2 linked regions of the Homo sapiens genome follow. Each later gene encodes a partner of the first gene's protein in a complex. Each region holds a gene or a part of one and is shown on either strand. Other genes may lie near its edges. The genes, in order: SF3A3 and SF3B2.

The links.
Region 2: SF3A3 (region 1) and SF3B2 share a complex: the UniProt entries of both Homo sapiens proteins name them as parts of the 17S U2 SnRNP complex.

Annotation. Positions count from the first base shown.
Region 1 is NC_000001.11:37,983,362-37,987,175, reverse strand, and holds part of SF3A3 (splicing factor 3A subunit 3), read left to right. Parts: intron 1-2,396; coding exon 2,397-2,469; intron 2,470-2,915; coding exon 2,916-3,007; intron 3,008-3,814. UniProt on the Homo sapiens protein: Component of the 17S U2 SnRNP complex of the spliceosome, a large ribonucleoprotein complex that removes introns from transcribed pre-mRNAs.
Region 2 is NC_000011.10:66,058,825-66,062,638, forward strand, and holds part of SF3B2 (splicing factor 3B subunit 2), read left to right. Parts: intron 1-5; coding exon 6-221; intron 222-376; coding exon 377-514; intron 515-690; coding exon 691-771; intron 772-957; coding exon 958-1,185; intron 1,186-1,757; coding exon 1,758-1,907; intron 1,908-2,861; coding exon 2,862-2,951; intron 2,952-3,066; coding exon 3,067-3,174; intron 3,175-3,814. UniProt on the Homo sapiens protein: Component of the 17S U2 SnRNP complex of the spliceosome, a large ribonucleoprotein complex that removes introns from transcribed pre-mRNAs.

The sequences.
Region 1 (3,814 bases):
ACCTGGGAGGTGGAGGTTGCAGTGAGCCGAGATTGCGCCATTGCACTCCATCCTGGGGGACAAGAGTGAGACTTTGTCTCAAAAAAAAGAAGTCAAGGCCACATTTTGTGGGCAGCTCCCAGCCAGTGACTGAGCACAGTATGGGTACTAGGGCCCAGCAATTTGGTCCACTCTGAGACTCCTCTGATGAATAATCTTTGCTCCATGGCTCCCCGTTGGGTTGGTCAAGATTTTGTCCAATCTGCATTGTGGTCTAGGCTATCCTGTCCTAATCCTACTTTCTCTTCCTTTTTATCTTTCACAGAAATTACTCTCCCCAATAAATTGTGTTCCTAACTCTGTCTTTTTTTTTTTTTTTTTTTTTGAGATGGAGTCTCGCTCTGTTGCCCAGGCTGGAGTGCAGTGGCATGATCTCGGCTCACTGCAAGCTCCACCTCCCGAGTTCATGCCATTCTCCTTCCTCAGCCTCCTGAGTAGCTGGGACTACAGGTGCCTGCCACCACGCCTGGCTAATTTTATGTATTTTTTAGTTGAGACAGGGTTTCACCATGTTAGCCAGGATAGTCTCTATCTCCTGACCTTGTGATCCGCCCACCTCGGCCTCCCAAAGTGCTGGGATTACAGGCATGAGCCACCGCGCCCGGCCCTCATATGCCCTGGAGCTCACTTATAATAAGGTAAAGAGAAAAAGGGCCTGGGAAGGCTTCCATCAGAAAGGTCACATGACCACTCCAGGTGGTGTTGCCTTACTGAAGTTAAGCAAAAGAGAGTTTCAGAAAGGCAGTCATGGTGTCAACTGTTATTGATTTATATCTGCCAGGATTGCTGCTTCATTAAAGTAGTATGAATGGAAATCTGGTCACAAGGTAAAGATGGGTAATGGGGAAGTAGAAGTATGGAGTATGGAACATGCATTTGAAAGGCTGGTAGCCAGGTGCAGTGACTCACGCCTGTAATCCCAGCACTTTGGGAGGCCGAGGCGGGTCGATCATCTGAGGTCAGGAGTTGGAGACCAGCCTGGCCAAAATGGTGAAACCTCTCTCTACTAAAAACACAAAAATTAGCCGGGCATGGTGGTGCACGCCTGTGATCCCAGCTTCTCATGAGGCTGAGACAGGAGAATCGCTTGAACCCAGGACATGGAGGTTGCAGTGAGCTGAGATCACGCCACTGCACTCCAGCCTGGGCAACAGAGCAAGACTCCGTCAAAAAAAAAAAAAAAAAAAGTCTGGTAGGAAAAAGAAGGGGAGAAACAGGAGGGTATTGGGGAAGACAGAGAAGCATACTTATTTGAAGGAGCACAGGGAAAAAGGAAGAGACTAAAAACAGCAAAAAATAGAGGCTGTTTATTGCAATACATAGCGCGGAGGTAAATGAAGGGACCCTCACACACATAGCCCCCTTGGAGGATAGAGAATGAGGTCTTCTGCTAACCAAGGGAGAATAAATGAATACCATTCTGATGTGTTAACCTTATTCCAGCCATGGTCAAAAGGTAATGAGGAATAAATGCTTAAATAACTGATTAGAAGGATGCCCAAGATATACTAAATGTCAGACGCAAGTCTTTTATGTTAAAAAAACAAAAACAAAAACCTATGCAGGCATGAATGTACTTGTACAAATACATATATTTAAATACATAGAGCACTGTTTTCCAAACTTTGTGCATATTTGAGCCACCTGGGGATCTTTAAAAAGTACTGATACCTGCCCTCCTTTGATTTAATTGGTATCAGGTGCATCAGGATTTAAAAAAAAAACTCCCCCAGGTGATTCTAATGTGCAGCAAAGTTTGGGAACCACTGGCATAGCAAAAGCTCTGTTAACAGTGGTCACCTGTTCTCAGGAGAATTAATAAAGGTGGACTTTTGAGTTTTTGTGAGCATGTGTTACTTTAGTGGGTTTTACTCAAACAGTACAAAAAAGCGGGGAAAAACAAGGTAATTGGAGAACAGTAGTAGATTTCCTAGTGAAAAATCAAGGCCAAATAAATCATCAGAAGTCCAACTTTCTGTGTATTTCATTTCTGTGATCTTGCAACTTTTACATTGAAAAATCCGCCTGCGGTCAGGCACAGTGGCTCATGCCTGTAATCCCAGCACTTTGGGAGGCCAAGGTGGGCAGATCACTTGAGCTTAGGAGTTTGAGACCAGCCTGGGCAACATGGCAAAACCCTGTCTCTACTAAAAATACAAGAATTAGCCAAGCGTGGTGGTGTGTGCCTATAATCCCAGCTACTCGGGTGGCCGAGGCAGGACAATCGCTTGAACCCGGGAGGTAGAGGTTGCAGTGAGCCAAGATTGTGCCAGTGCACTCCAGCCTGGGCCACAGAGTGAGAATCCATCTCAAAAGCAAAAAGAAAAATCCACCTGAGCTTTTACTTTTCCCCTCAGATCTGTGTGCCAATGTCAGTGGAATTTGAGGAACTCCTGAAGGCTCGAGAGAATCCAAGTGAAGAGGCACAAAGTAAGTAGGGGTGAAAATTTCATTCAGCACCAGCAAAAATACAGGTTAATGACAGCTCAGATTTGCAGCCATGGCCTCAGAGATATTTATAGCCAGGATTTCTTGCTGGTTTTGTCTTTGCTGGTTTCTGGGCTAGAGTGACATCCTAAGTTGGTCTTGGGCAAAATGTTCATTTTGTTCTCTCCTACCTCAAATTTACTGGCTTGGAAAGCCAAGGATTGTTCACTTTAGTTCACAATACTAAAATGAGTCAGTCCTTGTTACCTTGTAAGAGAAAACTCACTTTTGATCTCACTTAACTTATTGGAGGTTATATTGTGAGCAAAGGGAAGACATTTGGGTGAAGTGCTGCCTCAGGAAACTAGGAACACACAGTCCATTTGAAAAGGTAAGTCCAAGAGAGTGGTCTGTAGAAACTGAATCATTGATGTATCTGATTCCCTCAGACTTGGTGGAGTTCACAGATGAAGAGGGATATGGTCGTTATCTCGATCTCCATGACTGTTACCTCAAGTACATTAACCTGAAGGCATCTGAGGTAAGGCCTGGGAAAGGGCAGAGAGGTTCTGATTCTCGAAGTGAGTCAGGACAGTAGGCTGGAACTAGCAGACATGAAGCCATTGTAAAGTGTCTTCCTTGTGTTTTAAAACTCTTATGTAAATATTAAAGAGGTGATATGCTCTCTTGGAATGAAATACTATTCAAAATGAAAGTTTTCTACAGTGAAAACAAGAAGCATATTTATTTATTAATACTTTTTTTTTTATTTTGAGATGAGGTCTTACCATGTTGCCCAGTCTGGAGTGCAGTGGTATGATCTTTGCTCACTGCAACCTCGACTTCTGGGCTCAAGTGATCTCCTGCCTTAGCCTTCTGAGTATTTGAGGCTACAGGTGCATACCACCACCACACTTGGCTAATTTTTGTCTTTTTTTGTAAAGATGGGGTCTTGCAGTGTTGCCCAGGCTGGTCACAAACTCCTGACCTCAAATGATCCTCCTGTCTCGGCCTCCCACAGTGTTGGGATACAGGCATGAGCCATTGTACCCAGTCCATTATCAATACAGCAAGCATATTTTACCTTTGCCAAAATAAATCTTTTTTTTTTTTTTTTTTTTTTGAGACAGGGTCTCACTTTGTCACCCAGGCTGGAGTGCAGTGGCGCGATCTTGGCTCACTGTAGCCTAGACCTCTTGGACTCAAGTGATGGATCCCGCCTCAGCCCCACCAAGTACTTGGGACTACAGGCGTGTGCCACCATGCCCAGCTAATTTTTTGTATTTTGTGTAGAGATGGGGTTTTGCCATGTTGCCAAGGCTGGTCTTAAACTCCTGAGCTCAAGCAA
Region 2 (3,814 bases), on another chromosome or scaffold:
GACAGAAAAACCGGAAGCGTAGGAACCGAAAGAAGAAGAAAAAGCCCCAGCGGGTGCGAGGGGTGTCCTCTGAGAGCTCTGGGGACCGGGAGAAAGACTCAACCCGGTCCCGTGGCTCTGATTCCCCAGCAGCTGATGTTGAGATTGAGTATGTGACTGAAGAACCTGAAATTTACGAGCCCAACTTTATCTTCTTTAAGAGGATCTTTGAGGCTTTTAAGGTACAAGGAGAGCACACTAGGAAGGGGCAGTGCCAAACAGGGAAGGGGCTCAGAGGTGGGTGAGAGGCAGCGGTGAACAGGCATCTTTTAGTGCTGGCCTTAGGAACTGGGAAGGGGCTCAGAGGGCAGGGGTTTCACCTTGTCTGCCTCCTTAGCTCACTGATGATGTGAAGAAGGAGAAAGAGAAGGAGCCAGAGAAACTTGACAAACTGGAGAACTCTGCAGCCCCCAAGAAGAAGGGATTTGAAGAGGAGCACAAGGACAGTGATGATGACAGCAGTGATGACGAGCAGGTCAGGCCCAGCCCTCCTGGTGGGAAGCAGGGACTCTGGGCACAGGTGGCTGAGATGCATCCAGAGAGGGACCATGGTGAACTCTTACAGAGCTTTGGTGGCTTAAGGTTGGGGTGGGTTGGGCAGTTTCATTCACATCTGAGTCCTGCTTAAAAGGGCTGATTGTTCTGTTCTAGGAAAAGAAGCCAGAAGCCCCCAAGCTGTCCAAGAAGAAGTTGCGCCGAATGAACCGCTTCACTGTGGCTGAACTCAAGCAGGTAAGACCTGAGAGGATCCTGCAGGCCCTGGAGCCCAGCTGGGAGACCACCTGGGGAGCCAGGGAGGTGAAAAGGAGTTCTTTGAAGGAGGTGTGGGTGATTTGGGTTTGGGTCCTTTGAGGAAGAAGAGCTTCAGAACTGAGAAGTCGGGGCTCTCGAGAACACGCATTACTATGTGTTTTCCAGCTGGTGGCTCGGCCCGATGTCGTGGAGATGCACGATGTGACAGCGCAGGACCCTAAGCTCTTGGTTCACCTCAAGGCCACTCGGAACTCTGTGCCTGTGCCACGCCACTGGTGTTTTAAGCGCAAATACCTGCAGGGCAAACGGGGCATTGAGAAGCCCCCCTTCGAGCTGCCAGACTTCATCAAACGCACAGGCATCCAGGAGATGCGAGAGGCCCTGCAGGAGAAGGTGAGGGCCTGGCAGGGCTCAGACCTGCCCCCGGGTGTCCCCATCCTTCATAGCAGTGTGCTTCAAAATGGGAATCTGGTTTGAAACCCACCTACCACCTACTTGTTACTTGTCTAATTATCCTTTTGTTTTCCTCCTCTGCTCTTCCTCCCCTCTGCCTTCACTTTGCCAGCTCACCTGGTGACTCCTTTCTCAGATGTACTTTGTGGCTAGAGATTCGTGGTGGTTGTGTAACTTCTTAATTTTAAAGCTTTTAGTTAAATGCTTTGAATTCAGGAGGTAGAAAAGAACATGGGGAAGTCTCTGCTTTCCAGAGAACTGTTGAGATTCATCTCTTGATGAGATGGTTTAAAAACTAGTTATTGATATACACGGCTGAGGCTGATATTGTATAGTCTGTTTTGTTCAGTATGGATTATGTAATTTTGAAAGGTTTTAGCAGGAAGGATTTTGATGACTTTCAGGGTGAGATAATTGAGGCTTCCCATGATCTCATTTGGAGTTGGGAGCTGGATTCTCTACATGAATTTGGTGAGTACTTGTTAAGGCTTGTTTGCTGCCATTCTCCACAGGAAGAACAGAAGACCATGAAGTCAAAAATGCGAGAGAAAGTTCGGCCTAAGATGGGCAAAATTGACATCGACTACCAGAAACTGCATGATGCCTTCTTCAAGTGGCAGACCAAGCCAAAGCTGACCATCCATGGGGACCTGTACTATGAGGTTCGGGAGGGGGCTGGGAGAGGTCAGGCTGGGCCTTGGGGTTGAGACTGTCTAGGGCTTTTTTTTGTTTGTTTGTTTGTTTAAAAAAGATGGAGTCTCACCCTGTTATCCAGGCTGGAGTGCAGTGGTGGGATCTCGGCTCACTGTAACCTCTGCCTTGGGGGCTCAAGCAGTCCTCCCATCTCAGCCTCCTGAGTAGCTGGGACCACAGGCACACCACACCTGGCTAATTTTTTGTATCTTTGGTAGAGACAGGGTTTCGCTATGTTGCCCAGGCTAGTGTGGAACTCCTGAGCTCAAGTGATCCACCCGCCTCAGCCTCCCAAAGTGCTGGGTTTATAGGCATGAACCACCGCACCTGGCCAAGGAGGGCTTTTGAAGCAACTACGATAGTTCCTCAGCCTTAGAATTGCCCATCGACTACCCTCGGATGAGATGGAATTTAAAAATGAGGCTCTATTTGGAGGAGAGATGCAGATCTGGTGGCTTCTTTCCCTGATAGACTCTTCGTATCCTGTCTTAGAAATGATAATAGTTTGTGGTAGGTGGTTTAGGGATGGAGGGGCCAAGGGGCAGATGCTTTTAGGAAACTTTTAATATTGGGAGTGGTAGAGAAATTGCTGGTTTTTTCTGATCCTTGAAATCGTAGTCACCATGATGTCATGGAATTTATGAGGTGGAAGAATTTTGCATATCTTCCTGTCGAGTGCCCTCATTTTACAGATGAGGAGGCAGGTCCTAACGTTGGCCGTGTTCTCATAGTGGGTTATTGACAGCACTGTGAGTCTGGCCTGGTTTTTATTCCTTCCCCGACTTTGGCCAGGGAAAGAAGTGATGAGAATCAGAGTGGGAGCCAGGTAGCCCTCACTGGGATTTTATATCTGATGTGCGTTAGGATTGTGCTCCCACTGAGTGTCTGGGTCTACAATGTAGCATGCTCTGCTTTTCCCTCAGGGGAAGGAGTTCGAGACACGACTGAAGGAGAAGAAGCCAGGAGATCTGTCTGATGAGCTAAGGATTTCCTTGGGGATGCCAGTAGGACCAGTGAGTGTCAGTTAGCTGTCTGGGGAAGCAGCGAAGAGGCTGGTGGGGATTGGAGTGGAAGGCAGAGACAGGGATAGGGTTTGGCAGATGGTATCCTGTTCTCTTTTTCCTGCAGAATGCCCACAAGGTCCCTCCCCCATGGCTGATTGCCATGCAGCGATATGGACCACCCCCATCGTATCCCAACCTGAAAATCCCTGGGCTGAACTCGCCCATCCCTGAGGTGAGCATTGTCCTTTCGTTCATTCTTGGCCATTTCTGCTTTTGAACTGGAAGGTAATTTGTTTGTTTTCCTTCTCTAACTCCACCATGTGTCTCTTTATTTACTTAAAAAATATTTTATTGACATAATATTTGTCATATACCATGTGTATGTGTAGAAAAACAAATAATGGTTTTTGTTTTTTAAAGAAACTGACATGCTCATCATAAAATATTCAGTCAGAATTGACAAGTACAAAGATGAAAGCAAGTCACAATTTTACCACTCAGAAATAGCCAAATTCACTGTTTGGTGAATGTGTTTCCAGATATGTCTCTGAATATTAAGAATGACCAGAGAGAAATAATTTTATCTCAGCCAGATGTGGTGTCTCAACACCTGTAATCCCAGCACTTTGGGAGGCTGAGGTGGGAGGATCCCTTGGGGCCAGGGGTTTAAGACTAGCCTGGGCAACATAGTGAAACCGCACCTCTACTTTAAAAAAAAAAAAAAAGAAAAAAGAAATAATTTTTTTTTAGCTTCACTTCAGTCTCTCAGAAATAATTTTATCTCAAGAATGTCTTCAAATTTCTTATTTTAAAATAAGCATTAAAAAAATTGATGAGTCATTAAAGTAAAACAGTAGTATTGTTAAATTTTA